Homo sapiens: one gene and its partner. The protein of the gene in region 2 interacts with the protein of the main gene of each other region in a pairwise test. Each region holds a gene or a part of one and is shown on either strand. Other genes may lie near its edges. The genes, in order: GTF2H2C and FAM43A.

Evidence for each region.
Region 1: the proteins of FAM43A (region 2) and GTF2H2C interact in binary tests that used the Homo sapiens proteins (3 or more experiments, as listed by UniProt).

The regions. Positions count from the first base shown.
Region 1 is NC_000005.10:69,580,429-69,595,931, reverse strand, and holds the end of GTF2H2C (general transcription factor IIH subunit 2-like protein), read right to left. Parts: intron 13,567-15,503; coding exon 13,503-13,566; intron 10,339-13,502; coding exon 10,235-10,338; intron 9,679-10,234; coding exon 9,576-9,678; intron 5,605-9,575; coding exon 5,565-5,604; intron 3,854-5,564; coding exon 3,734-3,853; coding exon of another isoform or gene 3,721-3,733; 3' UTR 711-3,720; downstream 1-710. UniProt on the Homo sapiens protein: Component of the core-TFIIH basal transcription factor involved in nucleotide excision repair (NER) of DNA and, when complexed to CAK, in RNA transcription by RNA polymerase II.
Region 2 is NC_000003.12:194,676,841-194,693,311, reverse strand, and holds FAM43A (protein FAM43A), read right to left. Parts: upstream 7,059-16,471; 5' UTR 6,486-7,058; coding exon 5,214-6,485; 3' UTR 4,275-5,213; downstream 1-4,274. Other genes in the region: uncharacterized protein LOC124909474, read left to right, coding at 7,059-7,452, 7,894-7,974.

The DNA of each region.
Region 1 (15,503 bases), on a different chromosome or scaffold from region 2:
GGTGGCTCACGCCTGTAATCCCAGCACTTTGGGAGGCCAAGGCAGATGGATCATGAGGTCAGGAGATCGAGACCATCCTGGCTAACACAGTGAAACCCCGTCTCCAGTAAAAATACAAAAAATTAGCCAGGCGTGGTGGCAGGCACCTGCAGTCCCAGCTACTCGGGAGGCTGAGGCAGGAGAATGGCATGAACCCGGGAGGTGGAGCTTGCAGTGAGCTGAGATCGCGCCACTGCACTCCAGCCTGGGCGACAGAGCGAGACTCTGTCTCAAAAAAAAAAAAAAAAATTCTTCTTGTTGTAATTTATTGTTGTTGCAATTTTTGTTTGTTGTAATTTCTAGGGTAACCACTGAAAGAATAAAAACAAAGTATACAATTTTCAAACTAGTGACGAAAAACATAGAATGGTAGAAAGTAAGTAATCAAAAAGAAGGCAAGAAGGAAAAGATCGTATCAAATATGTAGTTAAAAAAATTTAAAAAAACGAAAGATGGAATTGTTGGAACCAATAACACAAAGATAATAGACTTAAACCCAAATATATCAGTGGTAATCTTTTAATAAATATTTATATTTATTATATATATTTATATATTTTAATATATAATATATTAAAATATATATTATATATAAATATATATAAATATATAAATATAAATATAAATAATATATTTATAAATATAATATTTATAATAAAATATATCAGTGGTAATCTTTTAATAAGTAAATATATTTATTAAATATAAAAGGTACACAGTAAATATAAATGAACTAAATGCTTTAGTTAAAAGACAATAAAAATTATGAAATAAAAATGTATACACTTGAAAGTATTTAAAATAAATCTAATTTTCATAATGAATTTTAAGCATTAAGGAGTTTTGTAACTGAATAGTGGAACTCAGAAAGACATCCTATTCAGAAGGATCTCTCATGATAATAGTTTCCTTCACTATTGTAGTATACTGTAGAGTTTCAAGAAAAAAATTAAAGGCCAAAACTGTCTTACATTACCATTGCTGTTTCTGCAATCTTCAACAAACCAAAATTTTCTCTGTAATTGTGAAAAAAGAACTCCTCCTTAAGCATAACTAAAATTTTGCCTTAACCTTATCAAATACCCAAAACTGTAGAAAGAGATAAAGCTGTTAATAGAGACATGGGTATCCCTTTTTATCAGGTCAGGAGGGTAAGTCTCTAATAGAGAGTTCTAGTAACTTCTCAAAAGGTAACTAATGAAGGCCTTCCTTCTAAACCAGATAGGGGGAGATAGAATGCTCTGAGTATTAAAGGCATCTCCTGCAAGCCACTGATACCTTTGTTGACAGAGCACACAGAAGAAAATAGCAGTTACCAGGTTACCTATAGGTGAAATTTGTTTCCACATAAAGAACCACTGGGTCCAGGCTCATGGAGTATGACTCCTGAGAGAAACTCCCGTTACTCTGATCAGTGTGTGTGTGTGTGTGTGTGTGTGTGTGTGTGTGTGTGTGTATTAAAAATGAATATTCCTGGGCTCCCAATAAACTCTCCAGGGTGGGATTACGTTGTCTTTACTGATAATGTTCTTAACTAAAAATTCTTAGTTATAAAATCACAAATTTCGGCCGGGCACGGTGGCGGAGGTGGGTGGATGACCTGAGGTCAGGAGTTGGAGATCAGCCTGATCAACAAGGTGAAACCCCGTCTCTACCAAAAATGCAAAAATTAGCCAGGCGTGGTGGCAGGCGCCTGTAGTCCCAGCTACTCAGGAGGCTGAGACAGGAGAATGGCTTGAGCCTGGGAGGCGGAGGTTGCAGTGAGCCAACAGCAGGCCACTGCACTCCAGCCTGGGCGATGGAGCAAGACTCCATCTCAAAAAAAAAAAAAAAAAAATCACAAATTTCATAGTGAAACTCAAGTTAGAGTACCTGAAGTTTATATACATAAAATAGACATACCTTTGCTATGAAAGCCTGATTTACTCTTTTTTTTTTTTTTTTTTTTTTTTTTCTTGAGACAGAGTCTAGCTCTGTCGCCCAGGCTGGAGTGCAGTGGAGCGATCTCGGTTCACTGCAAGCTCCGCCTCCTGGGTTCACACCATTCTCCTGCCCCAGCCTTCCGAATAGCTGGGACTACAGGCGCCCGCCACCAGGCCCAGCTAATTTTTTGTATGTTTAGTAGAGACGGGGTTTCACCGTGTTAGCCAGGATGGTCTCGATCTCCTGACCTCGTGATCTGCCCGCCTCGGCCTCCCAAAGTGCTAGGATTACAGGCGTGAGCCACCGCGCCCGGCTGAAAGCCTGATTTACTCTTAACTGGATATAACCAGAAAGAGTTCTGCCCACAATGATATATCTGCATTGAATCTAAAACACAGACTTCATCATACATTCTCACCTAAATTTCTCTGATGACCCAGAGTAAGGCAAAAGGTTTAGCATATGAGAGTGAAAGGATTTGAATCTCACTTTCTGTCAAACTTTAGAGCTCTGTTAACCATGGTTAGTATCAACTATGATTTTAGGCAACTTTGCTTATAGTAAAAATAACTCGTTAATTGTTACGTATCTGGATTGGGATGCACTATAAATAAATGGAGTCTTCAAGCTTTAGGCTTTCCTGAGTGTAGTGACTCTTGAAATTGACACATCCCTTGTGGATACCTGGAAGCTGTGTTTATGGAATTGTTAAGAGATATTGGTTCCTTGATGCCTGTGGAGGATCTTATCTCCTTGCACCCAAATTGTACTAGTGGACTGCTACAAGGACTTCCACTGCTAATGAGGACTGCTTGATGCTGTGCTGGCAGGCTGTTGTTTCTGTTTAATATCCTTCTGAGTAAGCGGGTACCAAGTATGGCCATGGCAGTCTTGTGAGTTTGAATGTTTAATGTAAAGTGACTTCTGTTGGTCATAGCCACAAATAATTTCAGATGTACTAACTTGATAAACATATTCCAGATGTTTGGTTAAACCTAAAAAGACCTCTCTGGTGGATGTAGCAGTACATCATTTCATATGTATTAATTTCATAACTTTTTTTTTTTTTGAGAGGGAGTCTTACTCTAGGGTGGAGTGCAGTGGCACAATCTCGGCTCACTGCAACCTCCGCCTCCTGGGTTCAAGCGATTCTCCTGCCTCAGCCTCCCAAGTAGCTGGGACTCCAGGCGTGAACCACCATGCCCGGCTAATTATTTTTTGTATTTTTAGTAGTGACGGGGTTTCACCATGTTGGCCAGGCTGGTCTCGAACTCCTGACCTCAAGTGATCTGCCCACCTCAGCCTCCCAAAGTGTTGGGATTACAGGTGTGAGCCACAGCGCCCAGCCTAATTTCATAAGTATTGATAAATTTTCATCTTACACTGAATTTACATTCAGACTTAACTTTCTTCTTACACTAAATTAATGAATTAACATAAATCATAAAGATTCTATATTTAATTATAAAAACATAAAATTATCACATCAATTTAATTCTTATAAGTTTATACATACTGCATAATGACTTTGAAAACAGTATAACTCAAAATAATAGAAAACAAAATTAATTGAATGAAGTACTACTGAATTTCAGGTATTTCTGTGACAACACAAATTTAAAATTTAATAAAATATTACCTTTTCTTAGCAAAAAGTTTCTTAAGTCAGATTATCCTTTCATGTTTTAAATGAAGCTTCTTCTAAAGAAGTCCTTTTATTCACAGTTGCAAATTTCTTTTTAACACATACAATGTATACTACATGCTGGAATCAAACACCTGAAGGAGCTGGAATCTTATGAATACAGCCAGGGCAACAGTGTAGAGAATCATGAACAAAAACATCACAGTCCACACAGAAAACATTTTGGCACACAGCACAAACATAAACCTGTAGTGAAAAGAAGAAAAGTGATAAACTAGTTTCCAAAAGTTAATTACAGCACAGCTAGATGACATTCAAGGTGTGCTTTGCTCTTTTATATCTCTACCAATTTTTTCCCACTACCTACTTTATTACTTCCAATGTACTCTATATTCTCAAATCTAAGGCAATTAATTTTTTCCCCAAAACTATCCCTTAGAAATGAGGGAATGGTTTTGTTTTTGAGTCTTTAAAGTCTATTCTATTACAGTTCGCTCTCAATTATTTCATTCTAAGGTTTAGGAAAGACATATGAGCTTCAAACCAGCGCTACTTTTGAATGCTTAGCAAGACCACCTGATTGATTCAATTAAAAAGAGAAGCATAAAAATTTAACATCGATTTAATTATTCTTAGGGAATGACCTCACAATTGCAAACATATTTCCCTTTCAAGTAAACCTTTAAAAAAATATGTCAAATGACACAGATAAGACAAGCAGAAAGGAAAAAACTACATTTGTTCTTTCAGCATTACATATATGAGTACTTGCTCCTTGGGATAAAATTTCCAGGGCAGCTTCATACACAGATTCAAAAATCACTAAATCTCAGAAGTATTTGGCTTTGAATAAAAAAAAAAAAAAAGAATGAATAAATAAATTTCAAACAACACAGACAATGACCTATTCTTAAAAACTCAAATGAGGCCGGGTGTAGTGACTCACGCCTGTAATCCCAGCACTTTGGGAGGCCAAGGCGGGTGGATTGCTTGAGCCCAGGAGTTCAGGACCAGCTGGTCAACATGGTGAAACCCAGTCTCTACTAAAAATACAAAAATTGGCTGGGCATGGTGGTGCACGCCTATAATCCCAGCTGCTTGGGAGGCTAGGCATGAGAATCACTTGAACTTGGGAGGCAGAGGTTGCAGTGAGCCAAGATTGCATCACTGCACTACAACCTGGGTGACAGAGCAAGAGTCTGTCTCAGAAAATAAAACCAAAAAACTGTCAAATGATTCAAAAAGTGGTTCCAGTTAAGAGTAAACTACTGATGTCAAAGAGGTATATAAAATTTAATAAAATTACTTTATAAATTGTGACAGTGGAAGAGCAATACTTCTAATTATTATTTTATATAATATATATAGTTTTAAATATGAACATGTAACTAAATTAAAAATTAAAGCTAGACAGTGATCCATATTATTTACATCTATACAAATTTATTTATTAAAGTTGGCCCTCTTCAAAATTTAAAAAAGTATTTTCTCATTGGCATAATGGAAGAATCACCTATTATCTGTGGCCACCTTAAACAATTTCAATGTGTTATCACACAGCTTAAAGTATAATATGAAGAAAATATTTTAAATACTTTCAGACTAAATGCAGTTTAGCTTGAAAGCTAAAGACAAATTACATGTTTTACAAGGGTGTACCAAAGTAGACAAAACAATCAAAGAATTTAAAAAAAGAGGAAAAAAATTAAAAAATTTTTAATAAAAAGTTTTAAAAAGATGAATTACAAAATACTTTATAGCAAAAATTAGAATGCAGAATAACAAAACTACTATTTAAACTATTTTGTTCCTATTTTACCTTCACCTATTGTCATTATCTTTACAAGAAATAAACTGATATGAGCCTGGTCTTTAACAACCTGTTGAAAACTTATAGTACCATTGATTTCAATATTTCTTGTACATTACTTAATATTTAGAAAGCCAAAGAACTTACATGTTGGTCTTTCAATTCCCCCTGACATCCATAACAAAATCTGAAAAAAAAGTTTAACAATGTTTTTTCTTAGAATTTACTCATTAAAATAGTTCAACAAAATCTCACTAACTAGAATCCTTTAATTAATATGTACTTGTCTTTACACATGACTTTCAGGAAAAAGAGTTAAGAATACCAATAGGCCAGGCACAGTGGCTCACGCCTATAATCCCAGCACTTTGGGAGGCCGAGGCGGGTGGATCACCTCAGGTCAGGAGTTCGTGACCAGCCTGGCCAACGTGGCGAAACCCCGTCTCTACTAAAAATACAAAAATTAGCTGGGCGTGATGGCAGGCGCCTATAATCCCAGCTACTCAGGAGGCTGACGCAGGAGAATCGCTTGAACCCAGGACACGGAGGTTGCAGTGAGCCGAGATGGTGTCATTGCACTCCACACTGAGCAACGGGAGCAAAACTCTGACTCACAAAAAAAAAAAAAAAAAAAAAAAAGAATAGCAATAATTTAAAAAAAAATTCCACAGTATATACAAGGTCATCTGACAGCCCAAAATTTAGTTTTTATTTTCATTAAGGTTAACTGTGAGCATGCTTTATTTTTCTTTGTTTTCGAGTCAGGGTCTTGCTTTGTCTCAAAGGCTGGAGTGCTGAGGTGCTATCACAGCTCACTGCAGCCTCAACCTCCTGGGCTCAAGTGATCCTCCTGCCTCAGCCTCCTGAGTAGCTGGGACTACAGGCATGTATCTCCATGCCTGGCTAATTTTTTATTGAGGCAGGGTCTCGCTATATTGCCCAGGCTGGTCTCGAATGCCTGGGCTCAAGCAATCCTCCTATCTTGGCTTCCCAAAGTGTTAGGATTACAGGCATGAGCCACCATGCCCAGCCAGAAGCACTTTCTAACGTTTGTTTGATAGTCACTTATTCTAATAAGTGCTACTTTGTGATTCTTCACAGTTATTGGCTATAAATCTCCAACTATGAAAGAAGAGAATTTAATTATCTTTCAATCATCTTGAACCCAGTAATGCATAAATATTTAACTAGTGTCATTCTCAATTCTTTCTACATAGTGAAGTCTTCCTTTTGGATAGAACAATAATCAATGTTTAGTTTACTATGCCTATAAAAATATTCTCAGCTAAGCCATAAGTTTTCCCCTATTTAAAACATTTTTTTTTTCCTGGAAATACTGTGTTGCTATTCCCAAGGTTAGTTTCCTATATAATTGACACTAATTCAGGCCCAATCTTCTCCGGAATAGTCTAACTGTCCTCTCGATATGTTCAAATACATCAGGAGTTCTGCAGTTTTCATCCCCTTGGTGATCTCTCTCCTGGAGCATCCTGACTGTCTCCAAACTGGACGGTTCCCCATATGTGACACACAGGTATCATTCTGGAATTTCTCCTTACCATCATCCTAGGCCGTTCTTCAGCCTGTTTTGAATTAGATACATATTACTAGATCCCATGTCATTCTCCTTCTCAGTTCCTTTGAATCACCTACCTCTTCCAGACCTTCCCCAGAAAAATCTCTTTTTGAGACCTTACAAGTCTGAAAATGTCTTTATTCTACCTACACTTAACTGATAGTTTGGCTGGGTATCTAAGTTGGTAACAATTTTCACCACAAACTTTGAAGGTGACTGCTCCCTCTCTGCATCCGGTGTTGCTAATGAGAAGCCAAACAATTTTAATTCCAGATCCTTTGTGTGTGACCTAGTTTTTCCTCTCTGGAAATGTTTAGGGTTAATGGTTTATTGTGTATTCTGAAATTTCACAATTATGGGGTCTGCCTTCCTTCAATACGTTAGGCACTTGGCAGTCCCTTTCTTTTATCTTCGTTGCAGAGATGAGGTCTTGCTGTGTGACCCAGGCTGGCCTGGAACTCCTGGCCTCCAGTTATCCCCCAGTCTCAGCCTCCCAAAGTGCAAGGATTAGAGCTATGAGCCACCCTTCCCAGCCAACAGGCCCTTTCAATCTAGAAAGTTCTGTCCTTCAATATAAAATTTCTTTGAACTATGTCTTTGATGATTTTCTATCCTACTTTTTTTCTTTTTTTCTCGTATCATTCTCATATTGGACCTTCTGGATAATTCCACCAGTATTCTTATCTTTACTCTCCTATTTGAACCTCTTTATTTTACTCCTTTTATTGTACTTTCTGGAATATTTCTTCAACTCTATCTTCTATAGTACTGGGTTTTTCATTTTTACTACATTTAACCTCAACCATAAGCAAATAAATACCAAGCTAAAACAATGAGACTTTTTTCTTTTTCTTTTGCCTGTGAGTTTTGGCCAATATAAAAAAGTTTCATAATACCTAATGTTGGCTAAATGTGGGAAAACAATAAATGAAACTTCTTTGAAGAACAACTTTACAATATCTATCAAAATTCACAAAACATGTAAAACTCTTGACTCAGTAATTTTACCTCTAGGAATTTACCATGCATTTATACTTGTACAAATGTTCAAAAATATAGATATAAGCATTATTTGTTAATAGCAAAAAAAGAAAATCTTAAATATCCAACAGGAAGCAATTGATTATATAAACCATAATTATACCTGAAATATGCAACAATTTCAAAAACAACATTGATCTAGATATGGTGATATTGAATGACTTCTAAATGACTTAAGTGTGAAAAGCAAGATGGATACATAATTGTTTTTGGCTAGCCAGTAAGTGTTTAATGTGATTCCTAAATCCTGGATGTTCTTTTTTTTTTTGATGGAGTTTCGCTCTTGTCGCCCAGCTGGAGTGCAATGGTGTGATCTTGGCTCACTGCAACCTCCACCTCCCAGGTTCAAGGGATTCTCCTGCCTCAGCCTCCTGAGTAGCTGGGGATTACAGGCACCTCCCACCACACCCGGCTAATTTTTATATTGTTAGTAGAGACGGTGTTTCACCATGTTGACCAGGCTGGTCTCGAACTGCTGACCTCAGGTGACCCACCTGCCTCGGTCTCCCAAAGTGCTGGGATTACAGGCGTCAGCCACCGTGCCAGCCGATCCTAGATGTTCTTAAAAGTAGTAAATCTTTATTTTCTGAAAACTATTCTCTAAAGGATTGACTACCTCTATTTCAGACCTTATTTGTTGTATTTCACACAAATAGCATTCGTAAAAATACTTAAAGATTTTAGATAAATTATGTTATGCCAGATTTTTTTTTTTTTGAGACGAAGTTTCGCTCTTGTTACCCAGGCTGGAGTGCAGTGGTGCGATCTTGGCTCACCGCAACCTCTGCCTCTCGAGTTCAAGCGATTCTCCTGCCTCAGCCTCCCGAGTAGCTGGGATTACAGGTATGCACCACCATACTAGGCTAATTTTGTATTTTTAGTAGAGATGGGGTTTCTCCATGTCATTCAGGCTGGTGTTGAACTCCTGACCTCAGGTGATCTGCCTGCCTTGGCCTCCAAAAGTGCTGGGATTACAGGTATGAGCCACCATGTCCAGCTTTTTTTTTCTTTTTTAAGAGACAGTGTCTCACTATGTTGCCCCAGCTAGTCTTCAACTCCTGGCCTCAAGTGATCCTCCCACCTCAGCCTCCCAAAGTGCTGAATGAGCCTCTTATTTTCAGTAGTGTGCTAGGACTGGATTGTACTGGATCAAAAGGATATATTGTTAAATATGTATTCAAGAAAGCTGGTTGTTAATTGTAGCTAAAAATTGGCCATGGTGGGAGTATTCAAACCATGGAAATCAGCAAATACTACCAATCAGGGCTTTTTTTCTTTTCCTTCTGGAAAACTGATTTAGTAGTACAATCATCACCCCTATTTATACATAGGTGGGTTTAGTGAAATTATTTGGTTTCTGGAGATTCAGATCTATTTAGCAACGAGTCATTTCAATCATAACTATGGCATTCTTTATCTCATCTTCCATATTAGAAGTACTCTTGTCCAAGTTAATCAGATTATTTTTTAAGGTAGTAACAATCTATTCAAACATTAGCTTACCACTTATAACAGATATAAATTAGTCCAAACTGAAATACCTTTCTCCATTATATTCTTCTAGGGGAATTTCTTGAAAAGCATCCAAAGGAAACAAATGATGGTAAGACCGTGCCAAGTGGGGAGCAGACACCAAAGTAAGACCTAACACATTAAGCAGAGAGACATGTTGAGTAGTCCAAACCTCATGAAGACAACGGCTGAAAAGCCAAAAGATGTAACTTCAGCAGAATATGTTCAGTTTCTTTTAGGATGGCAGTTATTAATTTTACCTGTGGCTATAACAGAAGATTGTAGGATGGAGTCTTAGTTCTGTCACTAAGTGTGTAACCAACCTGTCTCGGTCTATTTGCTTACTTATATTATAAATGAAATAAAATTCGACAATTCTATTAGTTTAATTCTTCATTCTTATATATATTTACTTTATAAAGGTAAGAGATGGAAAAATGTCTACTACATCTACTGCACTGCCTTTAAAGAATATACTTTTTTCAGAAAGAGGATCAGGAAACTAGAATGCTACATTTATACGTGGAAGTGGAGTACTGGGCACTCAATTTAAAAAGTAATCTATTTTTCTTTGCACAGATTAAATCCAGAAACATAGGAATAACTTAACATTTACATTAATTTTAGCAGCAATACAGATTAAGAAGTCATTCAAGATTTACTGAATAATGAATAGTTGTTTTCTTACCACAGATTTTACATTCAACAGGTAGCTCACAGTACTTTGCCCGACACTGTGGGCAGAAATAGCCTCCTAATGTAAGCCCTGGCTCAGTATTGCCATCCAAATGCCTGTAGGGGGAAAAAGGGTAATATATAATGATCTGAAAAGTTAGAGCGGGAAAGCATGCTATCTTGACCTTAAAATCTTGACACTATTTAAAAATCTATTTAAAAGTCTGTATTTTTGGCCGGGCGCAGAGGCTCACACCTGTAATCCCAGCACTTTGGGAGGCCAAGGCGGGTGGATCACCTGAGGTCAGGAGTTCAAGACCAGCCTGGCCAACACGGTGAAGCCCCATCTCTACTAAAAAATACAAAAATTAGCCAGGCGCCTGTAATCCCAGCTACTTGGGAGGCTGAAGTAGAATTGCTTGAACCCAGGAGGCAGAGGTTGCAGTGAGCTGAGATTGCACCACTGCACTCCAGCCCGGGTGCCAAGAGTGAAACTCCATCTCAAAAAAAAAACAAAAGAAGTCTATATTTAAAAAAAAAATTTATAACTTTTTGTAGAGATGGGGGTCTCTCACTATATTGCTGGTCTTGAATTCCTAGCCTCAAGTGATCCACCTGCCTTAGCTTCCCAAAGTGCTGGGATTATAGGTGTGAGCCACCATGCCTGGTCTAAAAGTCTATTTTAAAATCTGTGAGTATGTCTTATAACTCAATTATGCTACATTCATTTTTTTCCCCCTCTTCATTTTTTTTTTTTTTTTTTTGAGACGGATTCTCACTCTGTTGCCCAAGCTGGAGTGCAGTGGCACAATCTCAACTCACTACAATCTCCGCCTCCCAGGTTCAAGCAATTCTCGTGCCTTGGCTTCCTGAGTAGCTGGGATTACAGGCACGTGCTACCACACCCAGCTAATTTTTGTATTTTTAGTAGAGATGGGGTTTCATCATGTTGGCCAGGCTGGTCTCAAACTCCTGGTCTCAAGTGATCTGCCTGCCTCGGCCTCCCAAAGTGCTGGGATTACAGATGTGAGCCACTACACCCAGCCCTTCTCTTCATTTTTAAAGTCTCTATTACTATCTTTGAATTCACTAATTTTTTCTTCTGCAGTGTCTAATCTGCTGTTAATCCCAGCCAATATATTTTTCATCTAAAACACTGTATTCTTCATCACTAGAAGTTTGATTTGGGTCTTTTTTATACCTTCCATATCTCTTCTTACCATTCTCATGTTCTCTAACATCCTGAACATACAGAGTACATTTATAATTGTTGTCCTAACATCTTTGTCTACTAATTCTTTTTTTTCTTTTTTGATAAGAGTCTCGCTCTGTCACCCAGGCTGTAGTGAAATGGCACGATCTCAGCTCGCTGCAACCTTTACCTCCTGGGTTCAAGTCATTCTTGTACCTCAGCCTCCCAAGTAGCTGGGATTACAGGCGTGTGCCACCAGGCCTGGCTAATTTTTGTGTTTTTAGTAGAGATGGGTTTCGCCATGTTGGCTGTGCTGATCTCGAACTCCTGGGCTCAAGTGATCTGCCCACCTGAGCCTCCCAAAGTGCTAGCATTACAGGCATGAGCTACCGCACCCAACCCTTTGTCTATTAATTCTACCAACTGGGTTATTTCTGGGTATGTTTCCATTCTGTGATTTTTCTCCATTTTATGGGTCATATTTTCCTTTGCATCCCTGGTAATTTCTGCCAGGGACTATGAATTTTGCTTTGCCAGACATTGTGAATTTTGCTTTGTTTTGGGGGCTGGATTTTTTCTTTTTCTTTTTTTTTGTATTCCCTCAAATATTTAAGGGTTTGTTCTGAAATATACTTCATTAACTTGGAAATAGTTTAATCTCTTCAAAATTTGCTTTTAAACTTTGGTAGGCTGGTCTAGAACAGCTGTTAGTCTAGATTTTTCTTTTCTTTTCTTTTCTTTTTGCCTCTGGTTCCAGTTCTTGTGATAGAATTAATTTGATCCCATTACTGTGGACTCTATTCAATGCCTGTCATGTTAAGAGGTATTTCCATACAGACTGGTGAGAACATGAATGTTCTCTGTGTGAGCTCTGGAAACTGTTCTGTCTGCTGCTTTCCAGTGATTTTTTCCCTGACTTCCAGTAGTCTCCTCACACAAAAGGGCTGATCAACGCTCAGCTGCTGACTCATGAGCAAGTCTATGCAGCTCCCCAGAGAGTTCTCTCTGTGCAGATCTTTCCTCTCCAGTACTCTGACCTGCAAAATTATCGCCATCTCAGCCTCCTTGAAAGATGAACTTTGTTTCTTCAACTCAACAACATCTCCAGCCTCTGTGTGCAGCCTGGAAATTCCATCCAGGCAGTAAGGTGGAGTGCTCTTAGGGCCCATCTCATTTGTTTCCTTTCTTTCAGGGATCATTATCAGCAAGGCTTGCTGTCCAACGTCTGAAAACCACTGTTTTATATATTTTGTCTGCTTTTTTTGACAGGAGGGTAAATCTAGTCCCTGTTACAGCTTTTTGGCTGGAGGCAGAAATCTTGTTTGTGATTTTTAAGAATTACTCTCTTAAATTTAATTTTGTTTTATAATTATGTAAAATACAAAGCTCTGAAGTTAAAACAAGGTACAGTAATATTCTATATAACATTTTGGTCAGTGATGAACCACATATATGACAGTGGTCCCATAAAATAATACATTTTAGTTGTACCTTTTCTGTGTTTAGTTAAACAAACACTAGGTGTTACATTACAACTGCCTACATTATTCAGTACACAATATGCTGTACAGGTGTGCGGCCTAGGAGCAATAGGCTATACTATATAACTGCGATGTTAGTAGGCTACACTATCTAGGTTTGTGTAAGTGCACTCTGTGATGTTTGCACAATGATGGTATCACCTAATGACGCATTTCTCAGAATGTGTCCCTATCATTAAGTGATGCATTCAGAAAAGTCTAGGGTCTAACCCTTTGCTTTTCCCTACACACTCACTGAGGTAAACATTAAAAAAAAAAATTTCCCCCTCCACCCCTTTTAAGTTTTTATTATTTCCATACTATTGTTTTTATTATTAACATAAACAAGTATATACATCCACTTACATCTCTACTTTCTTCTTAGGTGATTAGCAGCATACTACAAAATTCTCTCAAACTACTGTTTTACTTAGTAATTTATCCTGAAGATCACTCCATACAAGTATATAGAGATAGTCTTCATTGCCTATCTTTTGAATTTATAACTTAAAAGAAGGAATTAAAAATGTAAAAACATTATTACTGATATTTTCAAGGTCTTTACTTACGCCATGCTGAAAGAGGGTTTTGCATCCTGGTCAGATAAAGAAGCAATGGTGTGCTGAGGAAATCCTTCATAGAAGAAAATGTATTACTTTCTTTTTCCAAGCAAACAGCAGAATTCTAGGACTAAGAACCTAAAAATGTTCTTCTCAAAAAGCCAATGAAGTTGTACAAAATATCACTTTACTGCCTTTCAGATAAGCTTATTATAGCATGATGAAACTGACTAATTCCAAGCTACAAGAAAAAGTAGAGGAAACGGGGGAAAGACCTGTCTATATATGACCTCAGATTCTGAAGTTCATATATATATTTTTCTTTTTTTTTTTTCTTGAGATGGAGTCTTGTTCTGTCACCCAGGCTGGGGTGCAGTGGCATGATCTTGGCTCACTGCATCCTCCACTGCCTGGGTTCAAGCGATTCTCCCACCTCACCTTCCCATGTAGCTGGGATTACAGGCATCTGCCACCATGCCCAGCTATATATTTTCTAACTTAATGATTAACACTACTTTTTAAAGAGGTTGTAATTTTTACATCATTTCTGATAAAACTGAAGATATCATAGTACACCTTCATTTTATCTACGTTTATGCTTTTATGTTTAAAATTTTGAAATGCTCAAATCTTTCATGTAATTTGTTTTCCATATACAATTTTAAATTCTGAAAACATGTTCAGGAAAAGCAGAAACCATTTTTAAAAAGATATATTACATAAAAAATGTAAATGTATCTACATATCAAAACAAATAAATAAAAGTAAAGGCAAATAACCAACAAGAAAAATATTTGCATCGGGTGACTGAGAAGGGTTAACATTCCTAAAGGACTCTAATAAATAAATTATAAATTTAAATAACTTTAAAATGAAATAAGAAAATATATCAGTAAATCAAAAAGATTAGCCAAACATAAGATCTAAAATATATTGAATGTTTACATCAAGCATTATTCTAAACGCATCATCTGTATTAACTCAATCCTTGAAACACACAATAAGGTTGATAGTTACTGACATCATTAAACACATGAGAAGACCGTGGAAAAGAGAGGTCGACTGGTAATATAAAAGGCCAAAAGTAGAAAAGCATTTTATTTCATTAACATTTAAAAACATACATATTAAATAAGGAGATTATTTTTCTATTAAAAGTTATACTTTTTTCAATCTAAATGTAATAAATTTTCATTGTAACATTTTTGTAAAATAGAAGAAAATAACATTTTAAAAAAGTGATCCAAGGCCGGGCACAGTGGCTCAAGCCTGTAATCCCAGCACTCTGGGAGGCCGAGGCGGGCGGATCATGAGGTCAGAAGTTCAAGACAAGCCTGGCCAACATGGTGAAACCCCGTCTCTACTAAAAATACAAAAATTAGCTGGGCATGGTGGTGCCCGCCTGTAATCCCAGCTACTCGGGAGGCTGAGGCAGGAGAATTGCTTGAACCTGGGAAGCGGAGGTTGCAGTGTGAGCTGAGATCGCACCACTGCACTTCCAGCCTAGGAAATAGAATGAGACTCCATCTCAAAAAAAAAAAGAAAAAAAAAAGTGATCCAAAACCAATAATTTCCCCTCCTTTGAGCAATTTGGTGTACTTCCCTGCAAGCTTTGTCTTTGCACAGTTTGTATTACACAGCTTTGATCATCCAGTACAGAGAATTTTGTAGCTTATTTTATTTTTATTTTATTTTATTTTTTTGAGACAGAGTCTTGCTCTGTCACCCAGACTGGAGTGCAGTGGCGCAATCTCAGCTCATGGCAACCTCCGTTTCCTGAGTTCAGGCAATTCTCCTGTCTCAACCTCCTGAGTAGCTGGGATTACAGATGTCTGCCACCATGCCCAGCCATTTTTTGGTAATTTTTAGTAGAGACAGGGTTTCGCCATGTTGGCTAGGGTGGTCTCAAACTCCTGACCTCAGGTGATCCGCTAGCCTCGGCCTCCCAAAGTGCTAGGATTACAGGCATGAGCCACCACGCCCGGCCTTTGTAGCTTATTTTAAAAAATT
Region 2 (16,471 bases):
TAGAAACAAGGTCCTTTTCTGGTACCACTGAGCAGCTCAAGAAAGAGGAAGGAAGGAGTGCCAAGTTCCAGGGCCATCTTCTCACCATTCAAACCACCAAGACGATGGTTAGTCAAGGCGCTCAAACTGGGTCACAAGAGCTTTAGAGCAAGCAGTGGGGGTTTGGTCTAGGGGACACTGGGCCTACGAACAGGGGTGAGCCAGAAGGAACAGAAACGGCCCCGGCTACTGGTCAAGCCAGATCCAGGTGTGGCCGCTGTAGTTTGGATATTTGTTCCCCCAAATCTCTTCTTGAAATTTGATCCCAGTGTTGGAGGTGGGGCCTAATGGGAGGTATTTGGGTCATGGAGGTGGATCCCTTATGAATAGGTTAATGCTCTCCCTGTGGGGAGACGGAGGCAATGAGTGATTTCTCTCTCACTCGAGAGCAGGTTGTCCAAAAGAGCCTGGCACTGCCCTTCTCCCTATCTCTTGCTTCCTTCCTCTTGCCATTTGATTCCTGCTCCAGTTCACCTCCCGCCATGAGTGCAAGCAGCCTGAGGCCTCACCAGAGCAGAAGCTGGCACCACACTTCTTGTACAGCCTGCAGAACCTTGAGCCAAATAAACCTCTTTCCTTTATAAATTACCCAGCCTTGCCAGGCATGGTGGCTCATGCCTGTAATCCCAGCACTTCGGGAGGCCAAGGCGGGTGGATCACTTGAGGTCAGGAGCTCAAGACCAGCCTGACCAACATGGTGAAACCCTGTTTCTACTAAAAAAAAAAAAAAGCACAAAATTAGCCGGGTGAGGTGGAGGGCACCTATATTCCCAGCTACTCGGGAGGCTGAGGCAGGAGAATCGCTTGAACCCGGGAGATGGAGGTTGTGGTGAGCCAAGGTCATGCTATTGCACTCTAGCCTGGGCAACAAGAGTGAAACTCTGTCTCAAAATAAATAAATCAATAAATATAAATAAATTACCCAGCCTCAGGTATTCTTTATAGCAACACGAAACGGACTAAGACAGTGGACATGTGCAACAAGCCTGGAGCAGAGAGTGCAGAGCGCCCTGGGCCTAGCACCCTCCTGGCTGCCTGGAGCCCTGAGTAGTTCCCCATGTGTCAGTCATGGCTCCTACCCCAGCAGTCCGTGCACATTTCTAGCTCTGTCATGCATCACTTAGCAGCAGATGCTGGGACTACTGATGCATACCACACAGAGGAAAGAGTTCTGCTTATTAAATTACTAAATCCTGTTTAAAAAGACGGCAACTTGCTCCTAATAGAATTTCTATGTTTCTCGTGATCCTTGGCAACTACAATGAGATTTTTAAATCTCCAGTATGGTGCCAGGGGTAGATTCTTCCAACCAGTTCTCTCTCTACTCACAAGCAGAACCCTCAAAAACAGCTCTGTCCCCTGGGAGGGAATTGTGCTTTCTTAGTATAACAGAGCCTTTCTAATTTGGTTAAAATCTGTTCTGCTGACTGTGGGGCAGTGAGAGGTGTTTCTTTAGGGAAACCATGTGTGTCCACACACGTGTGTGTGGAGGGGGTTCTCTGAAGCTGTCATAGTTGGGAGGGTATGAAATACTATTGTTTATTTTATGCCATTTTATTCCTCCCACCTTCCTGCTTACATATGCGACAAATGGTAGAAGTGAACATGGGATGTTTGTGCTGTGAGGAGTCGATGAATGCCTCCTCCCAGACTCACGCTGCCACCCCTGGAGGACCGCGTGCCGCCGGGAGTCACCCTGTTTTTCATGCAGTCGATGCTGCATTGTTGAACACGGAGGATTACCTAGGCTGGGAAAGAACGTGGAAAGTGTCTCAGTGCATTTAAAGTACCATCAGGTTAAGTCATGGAGAAACATGAGCCTCACTTTGCAGGAAAGAAAAGCTAAATTTGATGAGTAAACCAGACTTCAGGTGTTTTCTGGAAGGTGTATTTTATCTAATGACTTAGCTTTGCTTTTGTCGCTCCATTCTTTTCCCTCTGAGCTCCAGGAGCAAAGTAGTTTTAGGGTCTTTCTTTTATTTTCATTCAAAACATCTCTTCTTACTCTAGTGATATCATCCCTGGAAGACTGAGAAGTCAGAAGAGGTGAATCACGTGTCACCTTCACATCTCTTCTAGAATTACATCAGTCAGAGCTCTGAGGTGCAGTGGGGATCGATGCCAAAAAGCAGAGGGGAGGAAGGAGAGATGGGGAGGGCACAGACGGAGGAGGAAGGGAGCTGGCTCTTTCCAGCCTGCTTATTTTCTTCTTCCTCCTCCTCAACCTTCAAGCCCCCCTTCCTATTTATAAATCACATGAGAGGAAATATCAGACTTTAAAGAGATGGCTGCTTTATATTTATTGATGGTGTTGGTTTCAACACTATTTGCCTGAACTTTTGGACCAACCACCACATGCCTGTCAGTCACAGATGAAAGCCAACATTGGCATTCTCACAGGACACTTAAACTAGATAAGAATGAAGACACACAGACCCTGCCCTGTCTCCCAAGTATTAGCCATATTATCTTCACTCTGTCTCATCTCTTCATCAGTTTCAAACAGCAGAGGAACTTGGCTATGCATGGGAATAATTTCAAATGTGAAATCTAGTCACGCAGGCTAGTGATGGCCCACACAGCCGTCTGCTTATCAGGTGAGCACACTGGTGTGGAAGGGCTGGGATGGGTGGCTGGGCTGAGACTGGACTTTCCTGACCTCTCTCTAGCTGGGGTTTTTAATGTCATTCAATGATGTGTATCTGAGGTATTCAGGGAGAGGGATCGGGACGCACAACCAAGCCAAAATATAATAGATTCAAAGGCCTGGACGTCCTAAGGCCCTTAAGACTGAATTTTTTTTAAATGTTTTCCACTCAGCTGGGTACAGTGGCTCACGCCTGTAATGCCAGCACTTTGGTAGGCTAAGGTGGGCAGATCACCTGAGGTCGGGAGTTTGAAACCAGCCTGACCAACATGGAGAAACCCCATCTCTACTAAAAATACAAAATTAGCCCGGCGTGGTGGCGCATGCCTGTAATCCCAGCTACTTGGGAGGCTGAGGCAGGAGAATCGCTTGAACCCGGGAGGTGGAGGTTGCGGTGAGCTGAGATTGCACCATTGCACTCCAGCCTGGGTGACAAGAGTGAAACTCCGTCTCAAAAAAAAAAAAAAAATATATATATATATACACACACACACACACACACACACACACACACATATTTTCCACTCGCCCCCTTTGCTTTTCTTTTTTAAAGATAGTTCTATGCCTGAACCATTCCTGTTAATTAGGAAGAAAATCTTTCACCCCTCTTTCCTCTATGGTTCCAGTGAATTCCAGACTCCTTAGGATTTCTGGGTCTAGCTGCTCAGAACATATTTATGATGAAAACAAAGCAAAGTGGCCTCAGGACACCAGGGAAGGCCAGGAGTGAGATCCATTTCTGCAACACAGGAAGAGAGGCCTCAAGGGGCAAAAGGAAAATATAATTTGCAGAAGGCACAGTTTTGGCAGCATCTTATTACAACTTCCAGCTGATCGGGTGTAGCCAAACTAGAGACATCTGTTTGGAGTTTACAACAGAAACAAACACACAGAAAGCATGAAAGCGCTGAAACATGCACACCCATACCGCGCTCTAACAGCTCCTCTCCCCCTCGACCTTCGCGCCATCCCCCAACTGGGTCACACTGGGTTGTAGAAGGGAAGGAAATGGGCTCTGCAGCCTGCCCAGCCACCCACCCACCTGCACCGTGACTCACTCACACCAGGATCGGAACTTGTCAACTTTTCTCTCCTTGGTTTTCCTCCCAGGAAAAACAGAGATGGCCCCACTCCTCAGAGAACTCCTCTTTGGGTTTCTAGTTCATCTTTAAAGCTCCCTGAGCTGTTTGTAAAGGAAAAGATAAGGTAGTCTCCTTACGCTTGATTATTAGCATGGCCCACAGAAGGAGGTAGTAAAATCTCAGCAGATCTGGAAGTCACTCCTCCATAAATAACCTCACAGGTCTGGGAGTGCGATATGGAACTCACCGTGGCCTCTCCAAAAGACCAGAAAAAGATCACACAACTTAATTACTGAAAAATACAGGATAATACAAGAAAAGGCTGGTCCCAGACACAGCACCCAGAGTTGTGGAGGTCCAGGAAGGCCCCAGATGGCGCATAAAGTGGACCTTCCTTCCCTAATTCTCTCCAAGCACAGGAAAGGCCAAAGACTGTCTTATGACACCATCCCAGGGTCAGACACAGCCTCTCCCACCCCAACGCAGCAGTTCCAGACGCTCACCTGTTCTGTTAAATTTTCCTCTTTATTCTCTCCCCACTGGCGTGCAAACAGAACCAGAACAGTGCTACTTTTAAAAAATAACAAAATGTTTTATACACATTTCTGTATATACAACTGAACAACATTTTACATGTTTCTTTTGCACAGCAAAAGATATAAACATTCAGCTCTGAGAACACAGTTATGTACAGAAAAAAGTCAAAAATACTTCACAACAGTGCAAAAATATTTTACACAGTATCATGGAGTGAGATCTTTTGAGCAAGAGGAAGGGTGTGTGTGTTTCTAAAGGAAAACTCCTTTTTAAGATATTGGATGTCTTTAACTGTAAACAAAACGCGACTCTCTTTCATCTCCCCCCACCCCCCAAACAGTTATTTGAAGAATTTGGCAACATTTCAGGGGTCTGAGTCTGAGGTAAACAGCCAGAATTCTTGCACCAAAAAGAACCAAGGGCTAAAGGGTTGCATTAAAGCCTCAAACACCTTGAGAGCAAATTTTTTTTTTTTTTTAATGAGATGTCAGTGACAGCGCAGGGCCGCTCCCAGGGGGTGGGAGGAGGAAGTGAACCCCTCCTCCTCAGGCCCCAGCTGCCCCACAAACAGGAAACTGGCCAGGCACCTACGGCCTGAGACTAGGAACTTCAGCCAACCTTCCCTCACCCGCATCCCAGAGGGGTGCCTCTCTCTCCCTCCTGGCGGGGTTTTCCCCTCTCAAATCTCCCCGCATCCCCACGCGCAACAGAGCCAAAAGTGCTGGGGCGGGAGCGGGGGCCGGGAGGTAGGGGAAAGCGGTCGGGGGAACGCTGGACCTGGGCTCCAAGTGTAGGTCTGGGCCCCAAATGCCCCATTTCCCCCTTCCTGGGGGCGGGCAAGGGACAGGGAGGTTGTCGGGACCACGGATGGGTAGCCACGGTGGAGCGCCGGCGACGCGCGGAGGAGCTCAGCCCGAGTGGGGCTCGTCTGCACTGGCGCCGTCGGCCTGGCGGGACGAGTCCCCGGCGGTGGCGGAGGTGGCGTCAGGGCCCCCGCCCTCGATGGAGCTCTCGCTGCCCGTGCTGTCGCCTGACAGCAGGCGCGTCACCCGCAAGTCGGCCTGCAGGGTGCGCACGTCGTTGCCGAAGCTGAGCTCGCCCAGGTCGCTAATAAGTTGCGACAGCTCAGCCTTCATGTCGGAGGCGCTGCCCAGCAGCAGAGGCGGCGGCCCGGCCCCCGGGCCCAGGGAGCCCCCGCCGCCTCCTAGCGCCTCCCCACGGCCATTCTCCAGAGTATCCAACAAGTCCCCGCACTCAAAGTGCATGGCGACCACTAGCGCACGCTGCGCCTCGGCCTCCTCCTCTGCTGGATCTCCCTCTGCCGCACGGTTCTCCTCCTCCTCCGGGCAGCCCTCGGGTTGCTCCTCTTCCTCTTCCTCCTGCAGCTCCTGCTCCAGCTGTTCGCCGAGCAGGTCCTCGGTGATGGAGCCAAGCTTGGGCGCGCTGCGGCTGCGCTCCACCGGCGGTTTATAGCAGCAGGGTCCGTGTAGGAGCAGCTTGCGCAGCGGCACTAGCGGGATGGTGTGTGCGCCCACCAGCTCCTGCTGCTGGTGACGCGCGTCGTCCCGCCGCTTGAGGCGTTTAAATTCCGCCAGCGCGTTGGCCGACGTCTGGTAGAGCAGCAGGGCCATGGCCTGCGCCTTTTCGGGCTTGGACACCAGCACGGCGTGGCAGCGCAGCATCACGGCCTTGTGCTTCAGCTCGTGCCGGTACACCCAGGCGAAGACCTTGGGCAGCCGCGCGTCGGCCACGCAGTAGGTGACGCGGTGCAGCAGGTAGAGGTGGCCCGGGCGGCGCAGCGCGCGCTCCTCGGCGTGCACCATGCGGATACCCTGCGCACTCACCGTCAGCTTCATCTTGGTGCCCTGACGGCCCGCCTCGCTCTTGCTCCAGATCTTGCCCACAGCAAGGTCGGTGCAGCCGTCGCCGCGCGCCTGGATGGTGGTGGCATTGCCCAGGTAGAGCACGGTGTAAGTTGGGTCCTCGCTAGTGATGTGCAGCTTCTTGCGCTTGGAGCGGAACATGCTGCCCACCCGGCTAAGCGCGCCTTCGGGGCACGCCCGCGCCAGCGAGCTGAGCGCCGAGTAGTGCAGGCTCACAGCGTAGCCCTTGGGCTTGGACGCCTGCCGCGGCGGCGCCTCGGCCAGCAGCTCGAACTTGTGCTTCTTCCACGGCAGCATCTCCGGAGGGCGCCCCGGCGCAGCTGGGCGGCGGCGGCGGCGGAGCGCCGGGTGCGAGGCCCGCTGAGCCACCGGCCCCTGCCAGGCTCGGCCCGGGCAAGATCGAAGAATAAAACTACTGGGAGCGGCCCTGTGGTAGGGAGTTGGGGGGAGGGGAGCAGAGAGAGTGCTTAGGAACCCCGCAGGAGGTGCGGGTAAATTCTCTAAAAAAGAAAATATTCAGCTTCGAGTGTGCAAAAAAGGTTGGTGCGGGGGAGACACGCGCGCACACAGAATTACCCCAGCCTGGGCAAGGGCGAGAGCAAAGAGTCTCAGGCAAGCAACAAAATGCAAGGGAGAAAGAACGAGCGTAGAGTGGAAAATGTCAGGAAAAAAGCTAGAAGCGCGCGTGCAAATAAAGAGAGCCCCAGCAACAGCACCCGGGATGGTGCAAGAATATGCAGGAACTCCTCGGCGAACGTGAGGTGGGTCCCCTAACACACACAACCCTCAGGACTGGGGCCAAAACCCGCGGAAACTCTACAGCGAGTGTGCCTAGGGGCCGGTGCTCCCCACCTCCGAGGGGTGCTGGAGATGGAAAGCCCCCCGTTTGGGCTGGTCTCAAGTCAGCAGCTCGCCCAAAGTGCGGTCGGATGCTGGGTCCGGCTGGCCGCGGCGGGCCCCGCGCAGCAGTCCCGCGGGGACTCACTGCATCTTCGCTCCGCCGGACGCCGGGGACTCGCGCTCGGCCCGCTCAGTGTCCGGGCTGGCCTGGCCGAGACGGCGCTGGGCTCCGAGAACAGGGGACGGGCATGGCCGGGTCCGGGAACCGCCGCTACCTCATTTCTTCCCTCCGAGGCGGTGTCCAGCTCCGCTCCCGGGCTCTCCACGGTCTGCTGCCCGCCTTTGCAGTGCGCCCTCTCCGGTGCTGCGAGCGGCGTCCGGCTCGCCTGCCTCACATCCTTGCCGTCCGGGAGGAAGATCTCGGGTAAATATAGGCCGGCGCGAACCATTCGCCGCGCGGGGACAGGGGAGGAGCAGAGAAGAGGATCTGTTTTGGGCTCCGACTCCGGGCGGATTCCTGGTTTCTTAAAGGGACCGCGTGACAGCCATTGGTCGAGGGAGCGGGGAGACCGGTCCAATCCTCCAATTACATCCCAAATTTACCAGCATCTCTTTTGTCTATGGAAATCACTGGGACCTGGGGTTACCCCGCAGCAAAAAGATTTGAATCCTGACACTCCACCCCCCAGGCTGAATTGCCACTCACTGAATACATGTATGTCTAGATCGAAACTTCTGAGGGAGGTGGCAGAAGATGAGATTACAGATTATAATTTCCTGTACAAAAAGTTTGGGAAAATAGTGGTTTCTTCCTTGTGTGACGGCTTTCTGAGAATGACTGGGTGCTGTTTAATATTATTTTCAGAATTGTATTCCATTAAAGAAAAGAGAGAGGCACAGAAAACACCAAGGCTTATCTCTCACTATCTTGAGCTCGTATTCACAGGTAAGCAGCAGACAGTGTAAAGTGAGGTGAGTGGTAACATGATTGGGGTGACTACTGTAGAATACCGTCAATGAATAAGGCTTTTCCCCGTCCGAACCCCGGCAAGACCCCCTCCTGCTGTCAGGCCTCAGGGTAGAGCAGTTTTCTGAGATACACACAATTTCTAATGCTCGTGTGTCGTTAGGACTTAGTTTACTTTGGCAAGCCGGTCATGCGGTTTCATTCTATCATTGACATATTTTGGATGAGAATTCCTAGTAAAAATTCAAATGACGTTTTTTATTTAAGTGACAAATAATGCCAGGCCACCCTCCAATGGGAGTGATAATTGCATCAGTATTGCTTTTATCATGTGCCAACTGGACAGTGTAGTTGTCTTCTGACCGGCTTGACCCTTAGCCAGTAACTCATTTCTGGGCCCTTGAAACAGCCTGCTTGCCTCTATGGTATGGTCAGTCAAAGCAAAAAGACGTATGGCTGGAGTGGGATCAATGTCCGAATGATCCTGCATCAAACTCCCAGCCTGGTCCTGGAGGAGGACAGTGATCCCTTCCCACCATCCCAGTCCCCTGGGGATCTTTGATGTCTCTGGCTTCCACGCCAGGTCTTCATGCCAGAGTCACTGCAACCATACCTGGAAATTCCCTTGGGATATTCCAACAAAATAAAACTGACCCCTGCCCACCCTCTACCTTTGCCAACTTTTAACCTTCCTTTGAAATCTAACTCAATTTTCTCAGAGTCGTTGATGCTGAGTTTCCATTTAAGTTACTTTGCTGAGTTTCCATTTAAGTTACTTTTCTGACTACCTTTTGGTGCCCGGCCCTGAGCTAGGAGCAGACGGGATTCCTGCCTCCTAGTCCAATGAAGGTTGTAAACTCTACCCAACTCTGGGTTTCCACTGGACTGTGGGTTCTCTGCAAGTACCCTGTATCCCCAATATGGTACAAATAGGCACTCAGTAACTAGAATTAATGAGCAAGATATGCATGTGGACAAGAAGACAGAGTGGGCTAAATGCTATGAGAAAGACTCAAAGCACTATGAGAAGCTGGAGGAAGAAAGCATTCATTGTGACTAGGAAAATCAGAAAAGGCTTCATGGAGGTGGTGACCTTTGAAAGATAAACAGAATTTATCCAAATAGGAAAAGACTGAAGGGCTTTATGGGTATAGAGGGTAGCAAAATTACAGAAGCATGAAAATGCATGCATAAGGCCAGGCGCGGTGGCTCACGCCTGTAATCCCAGCATTTTGGGAGGCTGAGGCGGGTGGATCACTTGAGGTCAGGAGTTCAAGACCAGCCTGGCCAACATGGCAAAACTCTATCTCTACTAAAAATACAAAAATTAGCTGGGCATGGTGGTGCACGCCTGTAATTCCAGCTACTTGGGAAGTTGAGGCAGGAGAATCCCTTGAACCCGGGAGGCGGAGGTTGCAGTAAGCCGAGATCGCGCCACTGCACTCCAGCCTGGATGACACAGTGAGACCGTCTCAAAAAAAAAGAAAGAAAGAAAGAAAGAAAATGCATACACATGTAGTAATTAAGATGGAGCTTGTAACAATCAAAGAATAAACCTTCCTGATTGTGTTTTTTGGCTCTCTTACACTCCAAGGGAAGGAATGGCCTCTTCATGGCTAACTGGCCCCACAGGGTCCTTCAACCAGAGCTATAATGCCTTACTCCTCAGCTGCACTGATGGGTTAATGGAGGGATACCAGACATGCTGTTGGAATGAGGTAGTTAGTACTATAATAAGCCATTTAAGGCAACATTAATTCCTTAAATTTCTAGGCTATCTTGTAGTGGCAATGAAGGAGATAGCACACGCTCTAAAGAACAAAAACTCTGGTAAAAACATATCAAATGAGGCTGTGTTCAGTGACCTTTAGTAGGTCCATAATCTTGAACTCCACAAAAGCAGACATCATGTTTAAGCAGTGATCATTTCCAAATCGCTCAAAGTTCCAAGGCTCAAGAGGGTTTGGGGAAGAGGAAGAGGGAGTAGTAGCAGGAGCTAAGGCTGGTCTCAGCCTCAGCGAGAGGCACCACTTTGCACTTCATGCAGTGGCATGGACCCCAGTGGCCCACAGAGGCAGGGAGGAGTCTACTGGTGGGCCGGGCTGTTCAGCAGCAGCCGGAGTGCCAGTCCCAGCGGCACAGGCCCACAGAGCTGCTCCTGTTGACGAGGCTATGTCACGCCTTGACCGCCTTCCTAATAAGCTTGTTTCCAACCTTGGGAGAACAGAAAGGTTCTAGGCCAGTGTGAACACCCTGGTGTGAGTCATGCCCTGGAGGAGAACCCGCGGTCCCCTTGTGGCCTGGACCTGTGCCAGCCTCTAGGGCCCGCCTCACCTTATGGAGAAGCTGACCACCCCACCTGAAGCACACATCACAATTAAGGCTGCGTTTCTTCAGCTGGGAGAGCTGGCAGCACCATGTGGGAGTCCACATCACAGATCTGAGACAGGGCAACTCCAGAACAGACTGTCAGCAAAGTGGAGCTGGGAAACAGGTTAGAAACTGCAGTGTACTTTTTTAATGACACTGCCCCCATCTACTGGTAGCAGGCAGAAATGCTGCTCGGTGGATGGTTTCTCGTCAAACCAGATAAGCTAGTGGTTGAAACTACACACAACCGGGTCGCAGTTGGAAGGAAATGCTGCCATCAGGAGTCCCAGCCCTAAACTTGACATCCAGGAGTAAGCCTTTCATCTCACAGAGGATTTGGACCAGCTTCCTCCCACCTTACGTCTTACATAATGCTCCTTCCTCTCGCCCCTCCTCCAACATCCTACTCAGTGGACATTGACTTCAGAGATGACACATGACGAATCTGGAATCTTCAATGTCATCTAGTAAATACTTGTGGAGAGTCTCCCATGAATGTCACATAGTTGCTGGGGATATAGCACTAAAGAGGACAGATAGAGAGGTCTTTGCCTGCATGGGATTTATAGCCTCTGGTGGAGGCAGGAGGGCAGACAGTAAACAAAAAACTAATGAAATAGCAGATAGTGAAAAGTCTCTGGAGAAAAGGAGGCAGTGCTAGGAGTGAGAGGTGGCTGGTTTAGACAGCATGGCCAGGGAAGGTGGCTCTGGGCAGAGACAGGAATGAGATGAACCTGCAAAGAGATGGGGGAGAGCATTGCAGCCTGTGCGGCCCAGTACGCAGTCACCAGCCACAGGCTGCTGCTGCCACTTGAACCATAGCTGGCCCAAATTTAGACGCACTACGAGTATGAACTACACACTGGATTTTCAGGACTTAGTAAAACAAAAAGAATGCAAAAAATCTTCATAATGTTATATTCATTATATATTGAATGATAGTATTTTGGCTATGTTGATTTAAATAAATTATTCAGATTAATTTTACCTATTTCTCTAGCCTGGTCAACATGGTGAAACCCCGTCTCTACTAAAAATACAAACATTAGCTAGGCATAGTGGTGCATGCCTATAATACCAGCTATTCGGGAGGCTGAGGCAGGAGAATCACTTGAACCTGGGAGGCAGAAGTTGCAGTGAGCCGAGATTGTGCCACTGCGCTCCTGCCTGGGCGACAGAGCGAGAGTCTGTCTCAAAAAACAACAACAACAACAAAAACTTACCTATTTCTTTTTGCTTCTTTAAGGTGGCTATCAGACACCTTGGTTTTAGCCCAGTGAGGCCCGTGTTGGGTTCTAACCTGCAGCGCTGTGAATTTGTGTTGATTTAGGCCACTACGTTCGTGGCAGTTTGTTCCAGCAGCAGTACACCTCCCATCCAGCCATCTTTTCCCTTATCCTGACTCTCTTCCCTCTCCCACTCTCCTCAACACATACGCTAAGTCCTCACTAGTTTCCCAAAGCCACTGGCTCCCCCAGAGCTCAGCAGAACTGACCGGGTGCTTCCCCCACAAAAACGAGGCAGTTAGAGCAACCTCCAGCCCCTGCCAACCTACAAAAAGCACGTCCACACCCAAGCCCACCTCCCTCCTCCAGGCTCCGAAGTCTCTCCTCCCTTCAACCTGCCCCTCTGAAAGCCACCTTCAATACTTACCAAACCACACCTCTGACCTTTTCTCTCTTCCCCTTTTAACCTTCAAAATGGCTTCCCATCAGCCACACGGTACACTCCCACTCCTCAGTATAACACATGAGAATGTTCAGGTCTGGCACCTGCCTATGTCTCCAACCTCATTCTTTTCTCCTGGACTCCTAATTTATGAACCAGCCACAGAGAATAGCCTATGCTTCTCCCCATGCTCATGAGAGTGGTTTTTCCCTTCCTGCCATGCCTTATGTGGCTCTATCTAACTGATATGACCTCCTCCTGCCATTTGTCCCGGCCAAGGCTTACTCATTCTTACAGAGCCATCTTGGATACCATTTTCTCCAGGTAAACCGCCTAGGCCTACTCATCGCCTCTCCACATGCCCTTGTGTGCATCCTTACCTCTGCACTTGCCCTGTTATAATATTGTCTTTTTTTGAGTCTTGCTGTGTTGCCCAGGCTGGAGTGCGTGATCTTGGCTCACTGCAACCTCTGCCTGCCAGGTTCAAGTGATTCTCCTGCCTCAGCCCCTTGAGTAGCTGGGATTACAGGCACCCACCACCATGCCCGGCTAATTTTTTTTTTTTTTTGAGATGGAGTCTCTGTTGCCCAGGCTGGAGTGCAACGGCACAATCTCGGCCGGCTGCAACCTCTGCCTCCTAGGTTCAAGTGATTCTCCTGCCTCAGCCTCCTGAGTAGCTGGGATTACAGGTGCGCAAAAGCGCGTCTGGCTAATTTTTGTATTTTTTAAGTAGAGACGAGGTTTCACCAAGGCCAGGCTGGTCTCGAACTCCTGACCTTGTGATCTGCCCACCTCGGCCTCCCAACATGCTGGGATTACAGGCGCGAGCCACCGTGCCTGGCCTATAGTATCGTCTTTAACTCTCTGTCTCCCCCAGTAGACTATGGGCTCCTTATGGCTGGTGACTGTATTTTATTCACTCTTTGTATCCCCAACTTCCAGCACAATGCCAGCCACCAAATTAATGTATGGCAAGTGTTTCTAGAACGAACATTAACCATGTGTTTATTTTCAAAGTCATGGGACTGTCATGAGCACAGACTGTCAGAACTGGAAGAGCGTTGTCTGGAAGGCCCTTCGAGATAATCTAGTCAACCTCCCCTGGCTTTACAAATGAGGACACTGAGGCCCTGACAGCGCAGGTGCATGGCCATACAGTAACTTAGTGGCCACACCAATATGAGGATCCATGTGGTCTGAATCTCAATCCAGGGCCCTTTCCTGTGGCTAAACGTAAAGCCAAAAGCTTCTAAACACATATATGTATGTAGAACCCACGTCCTTCGTTTGCTCCCCCTCTAGGAAGAGCTGCTTGGGGGCTCACAGGTTCATTTGATGATCTGAACAGGAGCAGAAAGCCAAACATACTTCTGTGACTTGACTGAGTGGCCACTCGCTGGGCCCCTTAATGAAAAGTGCACTTTGCTAATGGCTCTCACTGCCCCCAAAGACGTTAGAGTCAAGCATGACTGTCACAGGACTCCACCAGTGAGACGGGTCTCTGTTGTGGTCGACATCGCACTTGGGTCTCTGAGAGTCTGGTAGCCCATTTCCCATTGCAGGAGAAATAACTTGTAGTCAAACAGTGCCCAGACCAGGGCCCTCTTTAGGAAGGAAGTGGACTTCATGCTAAGCATGGAAGGAGGGGCAGATTGCTGTCAACAGAGGCAGGAGAGAGCGGTCCAGAGGAAGAAAATGGCCCATGCAGAAGGTAGTTAGTGTTGAACATCCAACAACTGGGCAAAAGGAGGGAATGCAAAAGCACTGAGCCCCTACCGCATGTCAGACACTGTGCTGAGTCAGATCCGTCCAAACATTTCATGCTCCTAAGAGTGTTGTCAGGTCTGTGCTAGTCTCTTCATTTTTCCGGGGGAAAGGACCACAGCTTGGAGGAGTTAAGAAATTTGCCCAAGATCTCCAAAGCCTGTGTTCTTTGTGTTTGGGTCAGGCCAGGGCCTGACTCCTGATGGCCCTGAATGGCAGGAGGAGGCGTCTCATAAGCTGTGGTGAGTCACTGGAGGTGCTAGAGCAGGGACATGCCACGATCAGAGCCAAGGCTCAGGTACACAAGATTGGCCAAGAAGGAATCCAGACCCCCGCCCTCCAGCCCTGACTCACCGAGGGTCCCGGAGCACGCTGCTGCCCTTCTCTGCCTATTGGGGAGCTGAGCAAATCCTCATTCATTTCTAAGATCACAAGAAAGCTGCAGGTATTTCCTGCAGCTGCCATAACAGATTACCATAAATGAGGTGGCTGAAAACAACAACAATGTATCCTCACAATTTTGGAGGTTGGGAGAAGGCAGCATCCTTCCTTGCATCTTACTGCCTTCTGATGGCTGCCTGTCATCCTTGGCGTTCCTTGTTTTTTAGACATATTGCTCCAGTCTCTGCCTCTGGCCTCTCCTTCTTTGTCTTCTGCATATGCAGCCAAATGTTTCTCTTTCTAAAACAGTAGTTACTGGATTAGGGCCCGTCTAATCCAGTATGAGTTCATCTTCACTTGATTACATCTGCAAACACCCTTTTCCAAACCTGGTACAGTGAGTGGCTCATGCCTGTAATCCCAATATTCAGGAGGCCCAGGCAGAAGGGTCATTTGAGCCCAGGAGGTTGAGACCAAGCCTGCACAACATAGTGAAACCTCATCTCAAAAAAAAAGACCTTTTTCCAAATAAAAGCACATCCACAAGTACTAGGGGTTAGGTCTCGCTCTGTTGCCCAGGCTGGAGTGCAGTGGCACTATCATAGCTCACCACAACCTCGACCTCCTGGGCTCAAGTAATCCTCCCACCTCAGCCTCCCAAAATGCTGGGATTACATACAGGCATGAGCCACCAGGCCTGATCATGTCTTTGTAAGGGACACCATTAACTCAAAACAGAAGCCATGTTTCCAACAAAGCGCGCTGAAAATAAATAAATAAATAAATATAAAAGACAAAAGATCAAAACAGAGCCCATGACAGGAAATTGCAGGAGTGAGAGAGAACCAACAGACAAGTCAGAGGTCTACGAACTCTGGAGGTCACCCTGTGACCAAAGCTCCCAGAAGTGTTCTCACCATGCCCCTTGCCTTGGAGCCTCTCCTTTCATGGGCTGCTTGCTTGGAACCTTGGACGAGGTTCGCACTTGGGTCTCTGAGAGTCTGGTAGCCCATTTCCCATTGCAGGAGAAATAACGTGTAGTCAAACAGTGCCCAGGCCAGGGCCCTCTTTAGGAAGGAAGCGGACTTCATGCTAAGCATGGAAGGATGGGCAGATTGCCGTAGACAGAGGCAGGAGAGAGCGGTCCAGAGGAAGAAAATGGTCCATGCAGAAGGTAGTTGTTCTGATGGACAACCTGCCATCAGGAGTCAGGCCCTCGCCTGACCCAAACACAAAGAACATAGGCTTTGGAGATCCAGGCAGAAATGCAAGGGCACTAGAAGGAAGCCAAGAGTGATGAAATCATGAGCCTTACAAACGAGCCTTCTCCTCAGTGCCACCAAAGGCAGGGACCAGTCAAGATGGGTTTGTCCCCTCTGAAGATGGAAGGAGGGGACATGTTACCCCTACATGATTAACTTTAAAGCAGAAACCATGGATCTTTCATTCAAACTGATTCTTTTTAACATTTCCATTTGTGTTAGTAGTATCTGTGACTAATGATGGCTGAATTTGCTAAATGTTGGTTCTCGGTACCCTCAACTATCTCATGACAATGAGGGCAAGATGTACTCTTTTTCTCATGTGACATGCTGAAGGCACCACCCTGCTTTTGCCAACCTAGGCACCATTTCTGAGACCATCACTGTTCCCTTGCGATTTCAAATACTGGGATGAGGCAAGGGATAGCATAAAAAGGAAGAGAACCTACCAGGGTCAGGAATCTGTTAAGTACCTTAGCAGTTCTTTATTCCAACACCCACTTTGAGGCTTGAACCTGACTTAGAACATCTGACACCTGATTATCTGGTTTTTGCTTGAATGCCTCTGGTGGCAGGGAGCTCACTACCTTACTAAGCTGTCCAATATGTCTTTGAGCCCCTCTGATTGTAAGAAGTTTCCAACAAATTGAACCTCAAATTATAACCCTGTGATTTCTACCCATTTGTTCTGGTTGTTCTTGCCTTGTGTCTTCTCAGAACAGTCTTCTCTCCTTTCCCTATGACAGTCCTCCACATCAATGGAAATGGTTCCCACATACCCCTGGAGCCTCCCTCCTTAGGCTAGTCTCATTTCCATCACCTTTTCCTCATACGACATAGTTGTGCGTTCCAGCACCATCCAGGTTTACATGCATATATATATTAGGATATTTACTATGGTTTACATGCATATATGTATTAGGATATTTACTATGGGGAATTAAGGAGATGGATCACTTTCAGAGACAAAACATAAAATCCTGGTGGTCAGAAGCCCTCTTAATGGAGTAAGGTCTACCTGGTGGTGTAGT